Linked DNA regions of Homo sapiens: regions 1 and 2 are each linked to region 3. Evidence: fine-mapped expression QTL. Tissue or cell type: whole blood. Region 3 holds a variant in brackets; each other region holds the start of a gene. All regions are shown on one strand. Distances are between the middles of the regions.

Region 1 (5,000 bases), 31 kb before region 3:
CCCCGCTCTGCTCCGAACCCATTGTATACGGCCGGCTGCGGACTCCCAGGCCGGGCCGTGGCGGGGGCCCCGGGACCCCCGAGTGCCCCTCCGGCTGGTCCCGCGGGCCGCGGCATCTCCGCCGCCGCCTTCCTCGCGGCGGCGGCGAGGGCGCCCTTTCCTCCCCGCGCGGGTGACGGGGACGCACCCCCACCCCGGGGCGCCCCTTCGCGGGGGGAGAGCCGGGCCCGAGCAAGTCGAGGCAGGAAAGGGCCGCCACGGACTGCCCGGCCCGCCGATCGTTTTTATTATCGAGATTATTATTAAAAGGGGGCGGGGACCCCAGGACGCGGGGGAGGGGCTGGATACGCAGGTATTTTTATTAAACAGATTATTCCTGAAATAATAATACGCGCAAGATGGCTGAAGGTGGCTGTGATGAGAGTGTTGGGGTTGGGATTTTTTTCTTCCTGTTTTTTCTTTTTTGATCTGAGGATAAAGCTCTGAGGCGACAGCGGCTGCGGAGACCCTGCCCGAAGCGCCCTCCCCTCCCTTGAGAAGCCGCGGGCAGACAGACGGACCTCGGACCGAGCAACGGGTGCGGGCCCGCCCCGGACGCGTCGCCTGGGCAGCAGCCGGGGACCGCGGGCTCTCGCCTTTCTGCCGACTTCTTCCAATTCTCATCTTCTTTTATTTTTTGGACAGGACCGGGGTGGGTGGAGCAGAGGTGGAGAGAAATCGGGACTTGGCATTTTCTCCCTCTCTCTCTCCTAATTTGTTGGAGGCCGCCAGCCCTCCCCTTGGAAAAAAAAAAATCCCACCAAAAAAAAAAAAAAAAGAATCAGGAGCGAGAGGACGCCGCGGGGCCCTCAGCGAGCGCGCCCAGACCCCGGCCGCCGCCGCGGAGCCCAAGATGGCTGGGCGCTGAGGGTGGCGGCTCGGCCTGGCCCCGCCGCCGCAGGCTGGCTCCGACCGCAGCCCCGAGCCTTCCAGGCCCCAGCAGAGGCCGAGAAGAAAAGAAAGTGGGGAGGAGGGGGCCGGGGGGGCGAAGGGGGAGGGCCGGGGGAGGGGAGGGGAGGGCCGGGAGCCGAGCCTCCTGTTCATTAGCAGTTGAGAAAAATTCCTTTCTAGTTTGATCAATCCTTGTTTTCCTCGGCAGAGCCCGGGCGCCCGCCCAGCGCGGAGACGGGCGCGCGGGGTCTCTCCGCGGCGGGGGCGCCGGGCCTCGGGGGAGCGCAGAAGTAGCCGCCCGGGGGTCAGGCCGGAGCGCCGCCGGGGCTTCTCCCTCCCTCCCTCGCCGGTTGCCTTTTTTTCCACTTCTCTCCCTCCCCCTTCCGTTTCTATTTGTGAAGGGAGGAGGAAGGCAGAGGCGGGCTGGTGTCTCTGGCCGGGGACTGGAATTTCATCTGAATGACTGCCCCTGCGCGCACGCAGCGCCCCGGAGTCGGCCCGCCCGCGCCCCGCAGCCCGCGCCCGGCCAGCCAGCCGGGGGACGCCTGCACCGTGGCCCGGGGACCGCCGGCCTGCCCCTCCCGCCCCGTCCGGATCTAGCAGCCCTCGGCGCGGCCGCCCTCGCCTCCTGGCCCCGCAGACCCCGGGCTCCGGCCCCTGCGAGGGAGGTGCGGCGCCGACGAGCCAGGCAGGAGCCGCCGCTGCCGCCGCCGCCGGAAGAAGTGTGCTGCTCCCAAGCTCCGTCTGCCGCGGGGCGCGCCCCAATGTCAGCCGCGGGGACGAGCGCAGGCCGCGGGCCGCCACTGCCCTAGCCGCGCCGACGGGGAGGCGGCCTCTTATATGGAATTTGGACCCCGGCGCTCCCCTCCAAGGCTGGAGTCCCGGCCGCGGCCCTGGCGCAGTCCGCCGCCTCCCGCTAGGCGCTCGGGAGGAGGAGGAGACGCAGCCCGCTGCGCGCGCGGCGTGAGGACCGCGGCTCCCTCCTCCGGGGGGCGGGCACGCGGAAGGCGCTGCTGACTGAGCGACCGTCGGGGCCGGCTGGGGCCGGAGCTCGGGGCTCGGTGGGCCTACAGCGGCTCCGGACGGACCCCCGGGGCTGGGGAGTCGGGGAGGCCTGCCCCGGCCCCCTGCCCGCGGCCGCCATGGCGGAGAATTGGAAGAACTGCTTCGAGGAGGAGCTCATCTGCCCTATCTGCCTGCACGTTTTCGTGGAGCCAGTGCAGCTGCCGTGCAAACACAACTTCTGCCGGGGCTGCATCGGCGAGGCGTGGGCCAAGGACAGCGGCCTCGTACGCTGCCCAGAGTGCAACCAGGCCTACAACCAGAAGCCGGGCCTGGAGAAGAACCTGAAGCTCACCAACATCGTGGAGAAGTTCAATGCCCTGCACGTGGAGAAGCCGCCGGCGGCGCTGCACTGCGTGTTCTGCCGCCGCGGCCCCCCGCTGCCCGCGCAGAAGGTCTGCCTGCGCTGCGAGGCGCCCTGCTGCCAGTCCCACGTGCAGACGCACCTGCAGCAGCCCTCCACCGCCCGCGGGCACCTCCTGGTGGAGGCGGACGACGTGCGGGCCTGGAGCTGCCCGCAGCACAACGCCTACCGCCTCTACCACTGCGAGGCCGAGCAGGTGGCCGTGTGCCAGTACTGCTGCTACTACAGCGGCGCGCATCAGGGACACTCGGTGTGCGACGTGGAGATCCGAAGGAATGAAATCCGGGCAAGTACCCTACGCGCGCGCGCGCACACACACACACACAGACACACAGTCCCTTCCTCTCTCCCGCCCCGGGACCACCCATCCCGACAGGCTGACTCTTGTGACATCAGGCCAGTGGCCCCTGGCCAAACTCTTCTCTGAAAGTTTGGGGACAGGGTCCTGGGAAGAAGGGCCCCGGGTCGCTACTTGGTACATTCTCGCACCTGTGCGCACAGGGTCCGTCTTCTGAGTGCTTTATGGGATTGGGGTGTGGGACCGTCAGGGGTAGAGTCTGGGTGTTGCTTTTCTGTGGTGCGCAGCTCCCTCCCCCAGTCTTGTTGCTGTAGGCCCTACGGGAAGTCACCGAGGCAGTGACCCCGGTCCTGCCTCTCCAGCTGCTGTTTATGTAATGAGTGTCCCGGTGCCGCTGCTGTGGCTGACATGATCCATGATGCTGGCATACCAATGAGGAAGTAAACAAAAGCAGCCATGTTAGTTTTCAGCGCTATTGGAAACACACTGGGGGGGGAGTGGGGGGAGTTTCCAGAGGGAGAGCAGAACTCCGGCCGTCTCTCTGGACAGGGCCTGGGCAGCCAGCGAGGCCCCGACAGCGGCTCCGCTATTTGGATTCCTCCCGAGAGCCGGCTCTCCCTGTGTGAGAATCGCTGCCCTGTGTGCCTGTGTGTCGCACGGGCCGCATGAACAAGCCTTCAAGTATCTGTCTTCATCATCCTGGCCCTTTCGCCTAGCACAGCCCTCTCGCCGCCCTCCCACATTTGGGGAGGGGAAGTGGAAGACGGAAAAAGAATCCTGTGGGTTTAAGGTTGAGCCGCCTTGAAATCTGGTTTCAGGCAGCTGGCTCCCCTGGGCTGCCGGCTGGGTGATTACGGAACCGCGTCCCCTCCCATTGTATACACCCTGCGGCCGCGGCCAATGTCAAACCGCCTCCCCCCTCAGGCCTCTGGGCCTGGTTTTGGAGCTGGACTGAGGCAATACTTCCGTCCCCTTCAGTGGAGGGGGCTCCTCCTAGGTCCCTCCCCAGTCCTCTGGCTTTCAGGGTTGAGTCATACCAAAATGAAGGGGTTGGCCTGACACCGAGGAGTCCTCTCTGAAGCCCCACCTTGGGGCCTGGGGCCTGGGTGTGATATCTGGGGGCTAGGCTGCACTCTGGTGGGACTGGGAGTGTCTCTGGGTGGGGATCCCTGGAGGTTAGTGGAGGCCAGTGCGGAGGCTGGCTATGAGGAAGCTCTGTTCAGGGCATGATTGGAGATGGGGCTGTTTCCTGTGTGGGGGGACCAGTCAGAATGAGTCACTGTTTAGCAATTAAAAAACATACACATACAACCAACAAAAGGCAGGAGGGCCACCACAGGCTGGGGCGGGGGCAGCAAATACGATTTGCTGTATAATTAGTTTCCAATCGGATGGACTAGCCCTGGGTTTGTGTGCCAGGATAGGCCTCTGGTTTCTTAAAGGAAGTGTGTCCTCCACCCCCTGTGTCCTCCATCCCCGTTCAGGGCAGGCACAGCCCACACTTTCCCCAGTATTGGGAAGCTGCTGCTATTAATAAAGATGGAAGGGCTGGGGGAGGAGGCCGGGAAAAGTGCAGAGGCAGGAGAAAGGAGGGCTGTCCAGTTCTGTCCTGGGATTGGCAGTGGAAAATGAGAGGAGGGGAAAGGAGATGTGGCTGAAAGGAACAGGGGAGGGGCAGCAACCTGGGCGATGGGCGGATGCCTGCCCGCACCCACAGTGCTGCTGTAGCTGGTCTGAGTTCTAGGGATGTCTTTAATTGGGGTGGGGGAGAAAACGTCATTATACCTGACTTGGTGTAGGAGGATAGCTTTAGGTGTCTGTGTTTTTGAATGTCTTTGAGACTGTGTGCTTCGCCCTCCAATGCACCTGTCTCCTGTCTCTACAGTTCAGGGCACAGGCAGGGGTGGGTGGGTGGCATGTGCATGCAGAGTATTCCCTGGGGTGCCCCCCAGCAGGCCCCTCATTTCCAGACTCGTGGATTGGATGGAAGCAGGCACTGAACTTTGTCGGCAACTCCGCAGGGTGTGTGTGTGCGTGTGTGCGTGTGTGTGCGTGCGCGTGCATGCGCGTGCTTTCTTGTGCCTGGTGTGGGCAGGCTCAGAAGTAGTGGGTTGCATCAGGGCCAGATGTGCAATTCTGTGCGTTCAGCAGCTGTGCCCTGCAGTGGCAGCCTGAGCCTCATCCTTCTCCAGGTTCCCCCTCCCCAGGCCCCTGATTCTTTCTGGTGCCCCAGGCCACTGGGGTTGGAAACCCTTCAGTAGCCCAGTGTCACTCAAGTATGAGTTTGACTTATTGAATGTGGAGGAATAGGGGCCCTGCCTGCCCTCCCAGGAGGGAGAGGAGGGG
Region 2 (5,000 bases), 38 kb after region 3:
CCGTCTCTACTAAAAACACACACACACAAAATTAGCCGGGCGTGGTGGCGGGCGCCCATAGTCCCATCTGCTGCGGAGGCTAAGGCAGGAGAATGGCGTGAACCCGGGAGGCGGAGCTTGCAGTGAACGGAGATCGCGCCACTGCACTCCAGTCTGGGTGACAGAGCAAGACTCCGTCTCAAAAAAAGAAAAAAAAAAGAAGAAAACAGGAACAATACTTACATCTCAAGAGATGATGCTATGAGGATGAAATGAGGTCATGTATGTAAAGCATGACACATAACAGCCACTGAAAAGACTACCCTCGTGTTTTGTTTATTTTTTTAAAATAATTTTTCACGGGCCATTTTCTAACCAGAAAACATAAGTAACTGTTGGGAACAATCTTCAAATGTTGAACATGCTTGAGAACGACCACAAGCTCCATATATGTAGAAAGTGCTCCATAAATAATTACTGAATGAAGGAATCATATGTTAAATATAAGTGGTTAGTTACGTGCTAAAATTACTGTCATTTTAGTATTTTAGTAATTCATCAAGAACCTGGCACTGTAAAGCAGGGGTAAAATAGCTGACTCTAAATGTTCAGAGAAACCCATATTTGGGTTTTTGCCACAGTTACCCAAATTTGAAAAAAAATATGTATTTGTCACAGCTGAAGTTTAAAACAAAAACCAAAAAAACCTTGGGGTTCACGCTTCAGTTGTACAGTTAACCATGGGGGCTCATGGGATACCAGATGGGATACACTTAAGTCACACGACTGACTAAATTCAGTGTTTCACTTCAAGTTTTAAGAACAGCTCACGCTTGTGGAGATAGAAAAAAAATGTTTTTGGGAAACCAGATAAAGAATCCGGAATAATTTGTCTTAATTTCTTATTGTTCATCTTAGGAAAAAGGAAAAAAGAAAAACAAAATCTGTTTTCATCATTGAACACAACAGTTGTATACAACAGTGTTGTATATACACTGTAAATTTGTTGTATACTGTGCCAATTTGCACCTGGAAACATGGGCAGTGGTTAATTTACTGTGGCCTGTAATTATAAATTAAACAATCATGGATTACACAGTACACTTAATTGATCAACAAACTGGGAAAAGTTAGCCAACTCTCATGCACTTCTCATCCATAATGATGAATCTCAATCTCTGTTGGTTCGGCATGCCCTTTTCATTCCAATTCTAGCTATTTTCTGGGTAAATATTTATGTTTGTACTCATTTGTTGAGAAAAACTTTAACTTTAAAAGGACAGCTCACGTATAAATGATTAAGAAAAAGAAACAGTTGTAAAAATCTGTTTAGCCTGAGGTTAAAAAAAAACTGCAAGTGTAGCAAGTGTGAAATGTGATTGGCAACTTCAGATCAAATAACCCTACTTCTTTAACAATCTGACAATGTAAAATCAATTGAGTTTTTTTTTTCCTTTCTAAATCTACTCACTGGATAATCTGACCAAACATACATCTATTTTTTTTTTTCCTGGGCATCTAGTTTTTTTGTTTTTTTTTTTACTTCTTAAATCAACAGAAATGGCTCAACATTTCTAAAAGTCAAGAAAGGAACTAGGAAGAGAGTTGGAGCAGTGACTATAAGTTTGATGACAGGCTCTTTGCAGCCAACTAACCTGCTTTAAGTGTTCAAAATCAATTTTTCTTTGATAGCTCTAAAATTACTCAATTCCATTTTAACTCCCTCCAACTAACTGTACAGACATTAACAAGAAACAGAGTGTCAACGGTCAGATCTGTCACAACCATAATTTAGAATTTGGGAAAGCTTTAATTGGGACTGACAGAGAAAAGCCTTGCCCCGGATTGAAGTTCGATCTCCATTTTTAACTTCTCGTTCTTTTCAGTTTGGAGAACTCAAGCTAGGATTAAGATCTTTTGGTCCTGGTATGGTCACACGCAAGAGGAGACTGCAAAAGGTTTCGAAGGAAATTCTAGAGACGGAGCAGCTAATATGTCTTCATCAACATGGATTATGTATTGAATGAAAAATCGGTCATCACCAACAATCAGATCCTGCAAAACTCTCAGCAAATAACTAAATAATTCGGGACTGAGGAAGCGCACCCGCCACGCAGACACCAAGACGGCGTAAAATCCACCAGGCATCCCTTCCAAGCGGCACCCCTTTGTGTCGTGGGACTTACTTCCCTACCCCCCAGGGGCCCGCACAGCGCGAGAAGGAGGAGAGCTAGGCTACCATCTCCCCTGCTACCGCCAGGGCGACCTCAGAGCCAATGGGGCCGGCCTTCTCTCCGCTTCTGGCCGGGCTCCAGACGAACCCCACTTTACTGCAAAGCCGCGAGACCGATTGCCCGGGAAGTCTAAGCCTGCTAGCGAAAGCTGCTCTCCGCAGTTCCTGGGATCCGCCCTCACCCCTGTCCCCAGAGTAATGATGGAGCCCGGGCTCCGCACCCGGCCAGCCGCGCACTCTGCCAGCCCCTTCCCCAAGCCTCGGACCCGCTGCAAGCCCCGCCTTCCTCTCCAGGCCCAGGCCTCCCTCCAGGGCCCACCCTCGGGTCTCCCCGCCGACCCCCGAAATCAGTCCACAACCCAGATAGCAGGCTGAGCGACGTCCCATTCCCTCCTTGGCTTTAAGCGCAGTGCTCCGCCCTGGGCCTGGGGACGGGAGGGGGATAACCGGCCGGCTCCAAGGGGGCCCAGGCCCCCACACTCACCATCCTCCCGCCGAGTCCCTCCTCCTCCTCCTCCTCCTGCTGCCTCCCCCGTTACCAGGGGCAACTGCTGCGGCGCCGCCCCCGACGTCCCTCGCACGCACAGCTGAGGAGCTGAGCAGCAATACGGGGCGGGGTGCAGCTCCGCTTTCCCCAGAGTGCGCAAGTGCGCTAAGGCGCCCGCCCACGCAGTGGGCGGGCTACGGGAGCTGCAGAGGCCGCCGCCGGCTCGCCTGGACCAGGGAGTGGAGAAAGCCTGCCCACGTGGCTGGCGGGAGCCTCCCGGCCTGGGATTGGTCGAAAAGGAGGGGCGTGGGGCGGGCGTGGGGGCAGTTCCCCAGCCCAGGTCCTCCTCTCACCCGGGCCAGTTTTCAAGGCGGGCTGTAACTGGTGGCATTTGTCCCGGGACCAGGTAAGGGGCCTTGGGACAATGGCGCTCGCCCTGTCTACCTCCAATCCCCACATCTCGGGTGGGTGCTGAGATTGCTGTCCTGACTGCCCAGGCGGGGCTGCAGCGCGGGCTGGACTTCCACCTGCAGAAGCCACGTGGCGCGAAGTGCGCCCTGGGGCTGCAGATGGGCCCCTCTGCTCTGACCCCCATTGCCTAGGAGTGCCAGGCCGAGCGGCTGGGGCGTTACGAGCTGTCCGGGATGGGGGAGTACCGATGGGGGGAGGCCGTCTGTCGGAGGGCAAGAAGCAGCCTGGGGGCTGGCCCTGAGCCCTGAGGTGAGCTGAAAGCACAGGTGAAAGGCGTTTTGGGGATCGGCCCGGTTTTTGTTTTGACACAGGGTGTCGCTCTGTCGCCCGGGCCGGAGTGCGGTGGCGCGATCTCGGCTCACTGCAGCCTTTGCCTCACAGGCTTAAGCGATTCTCCCGCCTCAGACTCTCGAGTAGCTGGGATTGCAGGCGGGCGCCACCACGCCTGGATAATTTTTTGTATTTTGTTTTTGTAGAGACGGAGTTTCGCCATGTTGCCCAGGCTGGGCTCGAACTCCTGGGGTCAAGCCATCCGCCCGCCTAGGCCTCCCAAAGTGCTGAGACTACAGGTGTTCCAAAGTGGTGAGCCACTGTGCCCAGCCTCTGGCCGGTTTTGCTAAGCTGCTTTGGACAGGACCGCGTACCATCTGTAGTCCTGGAGGAGGCAAAAATGAGCCTGCATTTTTAGCCAAGGAAGAGCAAGTGGGACACTGGGGTGGGTTGGGAAGTGCTACCTCCCATCCCTTTCCCGATGCAGAGGACTATAAGAAGAGTTTACACAAACGTGCTAGGCCCTGTTCTAGACGCTGGAGACACAGCAGTGGACAAAATCAGCCCGTATGGAAATTACATCCTTCCTAATGAAATACATTTCATACCAAATTTCATTTTCACAACCCCTAGAAATTGGTAATTGCGGCCAGGCGCAGTGGCTCATGCCTATAATCCCAGCACTTTGAGAGGTGGAAGGGGAGGAAGGCTTGAGCCCAGGAGTTGGAGACCAGCCCGGGCAACACAGTAGGACCCTGCCTCTACAAAAAAAAATTTTTTTTAATTAGCCAGGTTCCGTGGCGCACTTGTAGTCCTAGCTACTCGGGAGGTTGAGGCTGGAGGATTGCTTGAGCCCAGGAGCTATTATCACATCACTGTACTCCAGCCTGGGTGAAAGAGCAAGACCCTGCCTCAAAAAAAAAAAAAAAAATGAAAACAAAAATCAACATCTGCTGCTTGCATACCTGCTTCAGATCCTTGGAGAGAAAAAGCAGTTCAGAGCCTTGACTAAGGAGGTGATGAATGGAGGTGATACAGGAGCACAAACCCCTATAATCTACTCATCTCCAGACTGTTGGCCCTTTTGTGAAAAAGGCAAGGGAGGTTGCTCTTTCTAAGTTGTCTGGTGCCTAACAGCCCACTTGCCTTGGAGTCAGACGAGTACCCATAAGCCTATACCTGGGCCTGCTCTTGTAATTATTACCCTCATTTTCCAGCTTGCTCTAGGCAGCCTTGACCTTAATCCTTGCCTGTCTCAGTGGTCTTTGTGTCTGACCTTCTGGGGTCTTTGGCTACCTTGATCTTCCTCTGATGTGAGTACCAGCGATGATGTTTCGTTTTTCTCCCTACCTGGGGCTACAAACAGTAATCTTGTGCACTTCTGCTTGTAAGAGGATACCTCAGAAGGAATTTGGAAGCTTGTTTTCTGATCTCTGATACCATTTGCCAGAGAAAATCTGCTCTTTCTGGGAAGGATGAGCATTACGTCAGAGGTGGCAGTAGTCTATTACTTTTTTTTTCTCTTTGTTTCCCTCTCTTTCTTTCCTTTTTTTTTTTTTT
Region 3 (8,174 bases):
GGGAGTGCTGGGAAGGGTTTTGCCAGCTTTATCAAAACAAAACCAAAAAGCTAGGATGGCCAGTTAAATTTGAATTTAAGGTAAACAATGCATTTTTCTAATGTTATACTGATGTCCCAAATATTGCATGGGATATACTTGAATTAAAAACTATTCATTGTTTATCTGAAATTCAAGTTTAACTGAATGTTCTGTAATGTATCTGGCAACCCTAATTCTTCTTTCTCCTGCTTCCAGCTACCAGCTAGTTCTGCCCACAGCTTGCTCTTTAAAGGCCGGGCGCAGTGGCCCACGCCTGTAATCCCAGCACTTTGGGAGGCCGAGGTGGGCAGATCACGAGGTCAGGAGATTGAGACCATCCTGGCTAACACGGTGAAACCCCATCTCTACTAAAAATACAAAAAAACCCCAAAAGTTAGCCGGCGTGGTGACAGACGCCTGTAGTCCCAGCTACTAGGGAGGCTGAGGTGGGAGAATGGCATGAACCCGGGAGGCGGAGCTTGCAGTGAGCTGAGATTGCGCCACTGCACTCCAGCCTGGGCGACAGAGCGAGACTGTCTCAAAAAAAAAAAAAAAAAATTAGCCAGACATGGTGGTACATGCCTCTAGTCCCAGCCACTTGGGAGGCTGAGTTGGGAGGATGGCCTGAGCCCAGGAGGTTGAGGCTGCAGTGAGTTGTGACTGTGCCACTGCACTCCAGCCTGGGTGACAGAGCGAAGTCCTGTCTCAAAAACACAAAACACACACACACACACACAAATGGTGAGGCCCTTTGGGACCAGCTGTGCTGCTGTGTCTCTAGCCTGCTGAAGGGACAACGAACTCTTCTGCTCCAGAGGGCAGAGCCCGGGACAGCTGCCAACTCTGCACCTTCCATGTAACACTGGGCAGGTCTGTTCCCTCTCGGAACCCTCTGTAAATGGAAGATCCAGTATTAGGTACTATGTAACTGCAAGTCTCCCTGAAGGCCCTAACTTTGCTAATTATTTCTTCTCCCTTTTTCCTGTCTGTTGGGCTGGACTTGGCCAAGGATGAAACCCAGTCTATGGTTGTGCTGTGTGAGCAGAGGACACCCAACACCTGGGGCAGGGAACCCAGGGGAGCAGTGCTTGTCAGAGGCTGAGGGGAGGAGGCTGGGCAGAAGTAGCACTCAGAGGCTGGGGGGGCTGAGGCTGCTGGGAGATGAGCCATTGACAAATTTTTTTTTTTTTTTTTTTTTTGCAATGGAGTTTTCTCCTGTTGCCCAGGCTGGAGTGCAATGGCACGATCTCAGCTCACTGCAACCTCTGACTCCTGGGTTCAAGCAATTCTCCTGCCTCAGCCTCCCAAGCAGCTGGGATTACAGGCACGTGCCACCACGCCCGGCTAATTTTGTATTTTTAGTAGAGACGGGATTTCACCATGTTGGTCAGGCTCGTCTTGAACTCCTGACTTCAGGAGATCTACCTGCCTTGGCCTCTGAAAGTGCTGGGATTACAGGCGTGATCCGGCCTTGCCATTGACTGTTTTTGTTCTCCAGAGGCGGCAGCTTGCTGAGCATTGAGACCCAGGCTCCAGGCCCCACCTGCACTTAAAGGCTCTGTGATTTCAGGCAAATTCCTTAACTGGGGCAAATGTCTCAATGTCCTCTGCTGCAAAGGGGGACTAATGCTCACCACGATGTATCTGAAGTGCCCGGCACGTAGGAGGGGCTTAATGAAGGGCTATTATTGCTATTGTTGGTATCCTATTTTATATATATATCCTTCTGGAAAAAACCTCTTGAAGAAAGCTAACCCCTGAAAGGACAAACACATTTCAGGCCCTCTCTGAGCTTCAGCAAAGAACACAACACATTCCAGGCTGCCTTCGTTCCAGCTAAATTTTATTTGTCGGATTTTTGACAGACGTCTAAATTATACATTGAGTTTTCCACATGACCAAACACCACATCTCTTCCTTTGATTATCATTTTCAAAAGGGATTATAAAAAAAGAACCTTTTGATGGATCAGACTGAACCCTGAAACCACATGGAGTGCAGAGCTAAAAATAAAAGGAAGTAAGAACTGGTCCCCGAGAAGGAAAGGAAAGGGAAATCAAAGCAAACTCTGACGGGAATGGAGAGACGAGTCCTGGTGAGGGTGACATGGTGTCACCCTCCAGGCCAGGCCGGATAAGGAGCGGCCAACAGTGAGGGTGGGGCGCAGAGTGGCACAAAAATAGCCACTACTTTAGTCCAGAGGGGAATAAAGAAATTTGTCAAAAGCAAGGAGAGAGAAGTGGAGACGGAGGGAGGGAGGAAGGAAGGGGGCAGGACCATGTCCTCCCAGCAGCCGTGGGAGCTGCGGACTCCTTTAACCCTGGCACATTTCTAACCGCCGGCATAATCGCTGACTTTCAGCTGTGCACCGACATGTTCCCCAGCTCAGCCCACATCAATGACACCCTTGTTTCCATAGTAACCAAGGGAGAGTGAAGGGGAAAGGGTGTGTTGCACTGGGTGCAGGGAATCCAGCCAAAAGCAGCCACACGGGGTAGGTCGGGAGGAGGGGAGGACTCGAGTTTTTCCCACAACTGGCTTGAGCACATATCACGAGCACCCCCCAGGCCTTGCCTGCCCTCCGGCCCCCAGCCCTCTCCCCCGCACATTCAGATGCAATTGTGCGCAGGGCAAAAGTCTCGCTAAGACTCACTGGGGACAGGAGGAGGGGAAAAGGGGTCTTCCCTTTCCAGCTTCAAATTCTGTCTTCTGGTCAGGGGGCAGGAGTGGGCAGGGAAGAGGCAAGAGGGCTTTAAAAAGTATTTTGTTTTTAAATGGGAGCTTTCAAACTCTGCCTTTTTCAGGCTTCTCTCATCTACCCCAGAGCCCCAGGAGGGTTCAAAAGGGCTCAAAGGGAAGATGAAAGCGTGTGACATCTGCAGTGTCTCTGTGTCTCTGCAGCTGAGAGCAAATCAGAACATTTACAGAGGCCGTTATCAGAGGAGTGGCTTCTGCCTGCTAGGAGAGGCCTTGGGATGGCTCTTTAAAACAGTCCCCTAAGTTGGTGGTAAAAGAACAAAAATATTTTACAGACCCTCCAATGCCAAAGTTCCATACTGCAGTGTTCCAAAATTGCAGACCTCCAAGCAGGCATTTTGCCCCTCAGATAACTTGTCCCTGCTGAACTATTCGGAAGAAAAAACAATTTGCAAGTGCTAGAGCCACATTTGCAGCCTGGTAGAAGGGGGATTTCTGATTCCTTATAATTCTGTGTTGCCTCTGTAAGGGAGAGCTTGGGTGAGCCAGAGAAGCCAGTGGAGGAGGCTGCAGAGAGCAGCTAGCTCTGAGGTTAAAAAAACCCCTCACTTTCTTTTGTTTTGCAAGTCCTTACAGGTCTGTCCACAGCAACTCTGGGGCACCTTTTCACGGCTGGCTTTGTTAATGACTTTCATGTCAGATCGCTTTTGAAGCTGGCTATGCCTCAGTCTCTGCTGCACTCTTAGCCAGAAGCAGCTGGGTATTGAGGGCCAGGGGCTGCAGCGGCCCCTTCAGTCTGCTCACACGCCCTGATGGGCTTGGGAAGGGCCACCTCCCAGGATGAGAAGGCAGCTGGCCCCCAGGGACCCACCAGTCACTGGACAGTCTCTTATTCATTCTCTGAAAACCCCTGAGCTCAGGCACCAGAACAGAGTTTAATTCAGGAGCCGGGCAATGCTCTGGCCTGTTTCCCCATGTTTGAAGCTGAGGATTTCTGAGGTTCAGGGAAACAAGCTCGTTTTGCAACGAGGGGCAGGAGAAATGTTCTGCTATTCCTCTCCAATCAATCAACAGAGGACGGACATTCTGCTGCAGAGAGGCAGAGGAGCCCAGCAGCTGGGGTGACTCTTGATTCCTTGGACACGACCCCTGCAGTCACACACACACCCATGTCCTCCCCAGCAGCAAACCCTCTCCATCCAGGAGCATCCCACACCACCAAGTTGCCAGCACTGTAAAAATTGATCTAAAAATCGATCTGCCTGGCTTTTCTCAGTGGAGCAGGTTCATGGTAAAGCTGCATTTATTTCTAAAATCTGATAGCAGCGGCCTATTGTGATCGTTTAAACACAGAATTCTTTGAGCTTTAGAAATCCTGTCTATAGGACGGCCGTGGAGAAGCCAGCTAATCTCAGAGTCGGCTGCTCACTGCTCCACTGAGCTGGAGAAAGCCTGTTTACGCTAGCCTGAGCCCTCGATGTGAGAGCTTTTTAAGGACCTTGTAATTTTTCTGGAATTAAACCTCCCACCTCTCCTTACATTCCAGATGTCATTACAGTCAAAAGTCATAAGAATTTGCTTCTCTGTGTGGCTGGCTGGGGCAGAGGCAGGGGTGGGTGGGATGGGGTATGTTTCTGTAGTGACTTGTCTGCAAGAAAGA[C/CT]TTTTTTTTTTTTTTCTGTCCAAAGAGTGAGGATTACATACGTAGTCTCCGACCTGCAAGACGATGAGATGGTTTAATTATCTGCCTTTTCTCCCCCCACCCCCACCCAGCAGCTTCCTGTCGGACAGACTGAAGCCTGGCTGGGCTAGTGACGGTAAAAATCACTGACAGCACCAGCAAACACTGTCTGTGGTTTCAAAACCATGGAGGGAATGCAAGGGACGGGTCAGTAAATAAATGAACTCAGCAAAGCTGCTTCTTCCTCTTTTTCTTTTTCTTTTTTTTTTTTTGAGAGGAAAAAAAAGCCCACTGGAATTGTCTAAACTGCAATGCAATCTCTTGCTCATTTAAAAGATCTCATTTTCTAATCATGTGCTTTGAGACATTTAATACTATTTCAATTATGCAGAGGAAATAATATAATTCCTTTATTTGAAAAATGATACTGAACCTCAGAGATCAGTTAAATCTACTGCTGGAATGGGGATTCTTTCTAAACCGTGTTGTTCCCTCTCTTCAAACAGCTGGAGCTGTACACAGATGGAAAAACATTTGGTCAGAAAGCAGCAAATTAGTGTTTTTCAGGACCGAATTCGGCTCCCGCAGCTCCTGCATCTCCATTCGTCTAGATTTTATTTCTTCTTTGCATTGACATTTTTGCAGACCCAGTTCATGCCATCCTTTGAGGGAAATGGGCAGAGAAAGGCAGTGTTAGTTATAAGAAAAGCACCACACACTCTAGCCTGGAGGGGCGGGCAGTGGGGGTCCCAGGCCCTCCCTCCCAGACCGCCAGCTTTAGGGAGTTTGCTTGGCTCAGGGGCCCACCTGGGTGACCAGGGACAGTGACCTCCCAGGAGGAGGAGGAGGGAGGTCTCTGAGAGCACAAGAGGGCGATGGGAGGGGGATGCCCAGCGCCTGAACTTGAGATGGGTCCTCAGGAACTCCCTCTGAAAAAATAAACACATCTGCCTGCATCCAAAGCCTGACTGAAGAGCTATCAGGAAAGATTCCAGCCATTTTTGGCTTTTTCTAAAAGGTGACCTTTGCCAGGGCATTAAATTCAATAAGCCACCCTTTTGGTGCCCCATGTGTTTACAGTGTGACAGTGTACACTTGGGTTAAATTAAATTTCTTTTTGGAAAAACAAACCTACTGCAGTGAGTGTTGCGAGGCACACACCAGGGCGATGTGCATTTACTTCTCTTCCTGCAGCACTCCAGATAGGTTTAAAAGGGTCTGGCCCGCTTCTTATAGCTTTAAGCACCAGCATCCAGAGGGACTGGGGAGAAGGTTCCCTTAAAGGCACAATGACCTTGAAAGCGCCCTCTCTTAGAAGGCTGAAGAGGGACCAAGGTAAAAATCACACAATGCCTACAGCTACCTGGCAGGCAGCATAATTCCTACGGATGCCAGGCCTGTCAGAGGTGAACTCCTTCCCAACCCCCTTTGGAGCCAAACCTGGACACTCTCCCCTTCCCTAGAGTCTCCCCAACCTTCAAGAGTGTGTGGAGTTCCCTCAGAAGCCCTGAACAAAATCCAAGGCAGCTGCTGCCATGAGTCCTTCCCCTTGCATCTGTAACAGAGGCTCACGGAGGTCCCAGCTACATCTGCACACATCAGCCATACTGGACATGCCACCGAGTCCCACATTTCCTGTGGCCATGGATCTAGCTGCCGAACCTGAACAGCTGAGACAGCTTACAGTAATAAATATCAGCTGACACCCTTGGCCATTCGGAACATTAATCCCATAAACAATACATCACTGCAAAAAAACAACCAGCAGGCATCCTCTCTCCTGGCTCATCTGACCGTCACCTGAATTTACAGTGATTACAACTCTGCCAGTTGCTGTCAGTGCACTTGGGCAGCAGAACTAGATAATCTGACGGCTGTCCCAGAGCCGACATCTGACCTTTGCCAAGATGAGGCCGGTGGCGCCGAAAGCCCGAAGGTGGACAGCACCTGGCAGCAGCAGGGGGAAGGGCAGAGGAATGCCGAGGTGGGAGAAATGAGGACTCCAAACGCATCTCTAATTACAATGGGGTCAGCTACTTACTCTGAGAAGCTAAGGCCAATTTTAAGACCATTTTATGAAAAGGATTAATTTAAAGAGAAGCATGTTTAATTTTAGTAGCTAATTGGTTTCCAGGAAAAAAAAAAGATCACCTGTCAAGAGACAAAAAAGATTTTACAAATAAAAGAGGGATGAATAAGATAAGCATCTTCTCTCGCCTGGGAAGCTGAATAGCTCAGCACTTACATAGCACTTTCCACCTTCAGGGGCTCACACAAACACTCAAAGGTGGGCACCTCAACACTCTCTCCTCTACGGAGGCTCGCACTCAAACCATCTTCTCAGAGAAATCAAGGACAGTGTGCCCACACTATGTGAATAGCGCTTTGCCTTTTCCTTGCTTTATGGCTGATTAAGGAGAGATTATTGCATATAACTGAACATGAATGCAGGCAAAGAGATAGGAAAAATATTTACTCAGCTGCAGGAGCCCAAAGCAGAAGGTGGAGGGTGTGGGGTGGTTTTATGCCGGGTCTCTGTTATGGAGGCAAAGGAGGGTTCAAACGGCAGAGCCCTGCTGAGGGACAGTGTCTGGTGTCTCCAGGTGCCTGTGAGGGCCAGCAGTGGTGAAGCCCTTCTAGCCACTGTCCTGCCAACAGAGGGCGCACAGAGGCCAGTCCCTGCCAGCTGACCCCCGGCCTGGGCCCCTGCAGCTGCCGCTGCAACCCTGAGTGTGGGAAGCACAGGGAGCGTAAACAGGGGACCGAGCCCTGTGGCTGCCCTGGGCCCGGGAGGCCCCTCTAATCTGAAGCGGCTAGTGCTTGGGGAGTGGCATCTTTCTTGTGCTGGGCAGAAGAGAACTGGGCTGGAGGTGGGAGGGGAGGGAAGGGGAGGCATTGGCCAACAATGGTACCTCCTCAATCACGTGGCCATGGATCTAGCTGGGGCAAGCTTTGTCAATCACATCAGGGCAAGCTTTGTCAAGCTGCCTCCTGGAAAGGAAAGGCAATGGTGGTGCCCAAGCTCCCCTAGGGGAGGCTCCCATCAGACTTGCTGGAGATTATATTCCCAGAACCTAACATGATGTCTAGCCCACAGCCCACTTAATTCACATCTTTTAAGTCAATCCTTGTAGAAGCCTGCAAAGTAGGTGCTGGTGTTATTTCTCTATCACAGCTGAGGAGATGAAGGCACAGGACAGAGCAGGGCAATGGCAAGCTGTGGTGCCCAGCGTGGTGCTCCAGAGCTGCTTACCAGTTCTCCACGGATGTGGGTACCTGCCGGGTGAAGGGTTCTGCCCCAAGCTTAAAGAGGAGCTGGGAAGCACCCTGAAGATGGGAAAAGGAGGAATTCTGGTTTTATCCTCCTTGTGACTTCCGCTAAAAACAGGGGCCTGAGACTGGAGTAGCCCCAGCCAAGCCTCCCTGCAGCTCCGATAGTGCCAGAGGTTGTTATGGGCCATTCAGTTCTCAAGATTCCTGGGCTGTGGGTATCTGTATATGCAGAGGCCTGGTTATCTGCCTGGCTGCACAATCCTCACATATTAACCATCCACCCAGACCACCTCCTCCAGTGGAAATGCTACATTTAGAGAAAACATACTTGCAAGAGGAGGAACCTTCTGCTTCTTATGTTTAAATAAATGTTCCATACCACTCTTGCTTTCACCTGGCAAGGAAGGCTTTTTTTTTGAGACGGAGTCTTGCTCTGTCGCCCAGGCTGGAGTGCAGTGGCATGATCTCGACTCGCTGCAAGCTCCGCCTCATGCCATTCTCCTGC

Evidence for each region. PIP is the estimated chance that this variant, and not a neighbour inherited with it, causes the effect.
Region 1: TRIM8 starts here. The variant in region 3 is fine-mapped to the expression of TRIM8 in whole blood (INTERVAL, PIP above 0.99).
Region 2: ARL3 starts here. The variant in region 3 is fine-mapped to the expression of ARL3 in whole blood (INTERVAL, PIP above 0.99).

What each region holds. Positions count from the first base shown.
Region 1 is chr10:102,642,546-102,647,545 of GRCh38, forward strand. It overlaps TRIM8 (tripartite motif containing 8), which reads left to right and starts at 1,934. Exons shown (of 6, transcript NM_030912.3): 1 at 1,934-2,642. The coding sequence starts at 2,073. It overlaps TRIM8-DT (TRIM8 divergent transcript), which reads right to left and starts at 644. Exons shown (of 1, transcript NR_186489.1): 1 at 247-644. RefSeq lists silencers at 1-263, 594-653, 924-1,023, 1,104-2,083, 3,369-3,585 and enhancers at 572-1,326, 1,327-2,082, 2,184-2,313, 3,094-3,193.
Region 2 is chr10:102,711,577-102,716,576 of GRCh38, forward strand. ARL3 (ARF like GTPase 3) reads right to left here and starts at 2,821. Exons shown (of 6, transcript NM_004311.4): 1 at 2,697-2,821. The coding sequence starts at 2,699. SFXN2 (sideroflexin 2) reads left to right here and starts at 3,060. Exons shown (of 12, transcript NM_178858.6): 1 at 3,060-3,105. RefSeq lists silencers at 2,481-2,580, 2,621-2,670, 2,738-3,132, 2,951-3,100 and enhancers at 2,886-3,462, 3,463-4,038.
Region 3 is chr10:102,671,884-102,680,057 of GRCh38, forward strand. It overlaps ARL3 (ARF like GTPase 3), which reads right to left. Exons shown (of 6, transcript NM_004311.4): 6 at 1,848-5,058. The coding sequence ends at 5,011. Among named protein-coding and RNA genes, the nearest start is that of TRIM8, 31 kb to the left of the region's middle. RefSeq lists an enhancer at 1,922-2,471. The variant C/CT (reference allele first, on the strand shown) is at 4,379.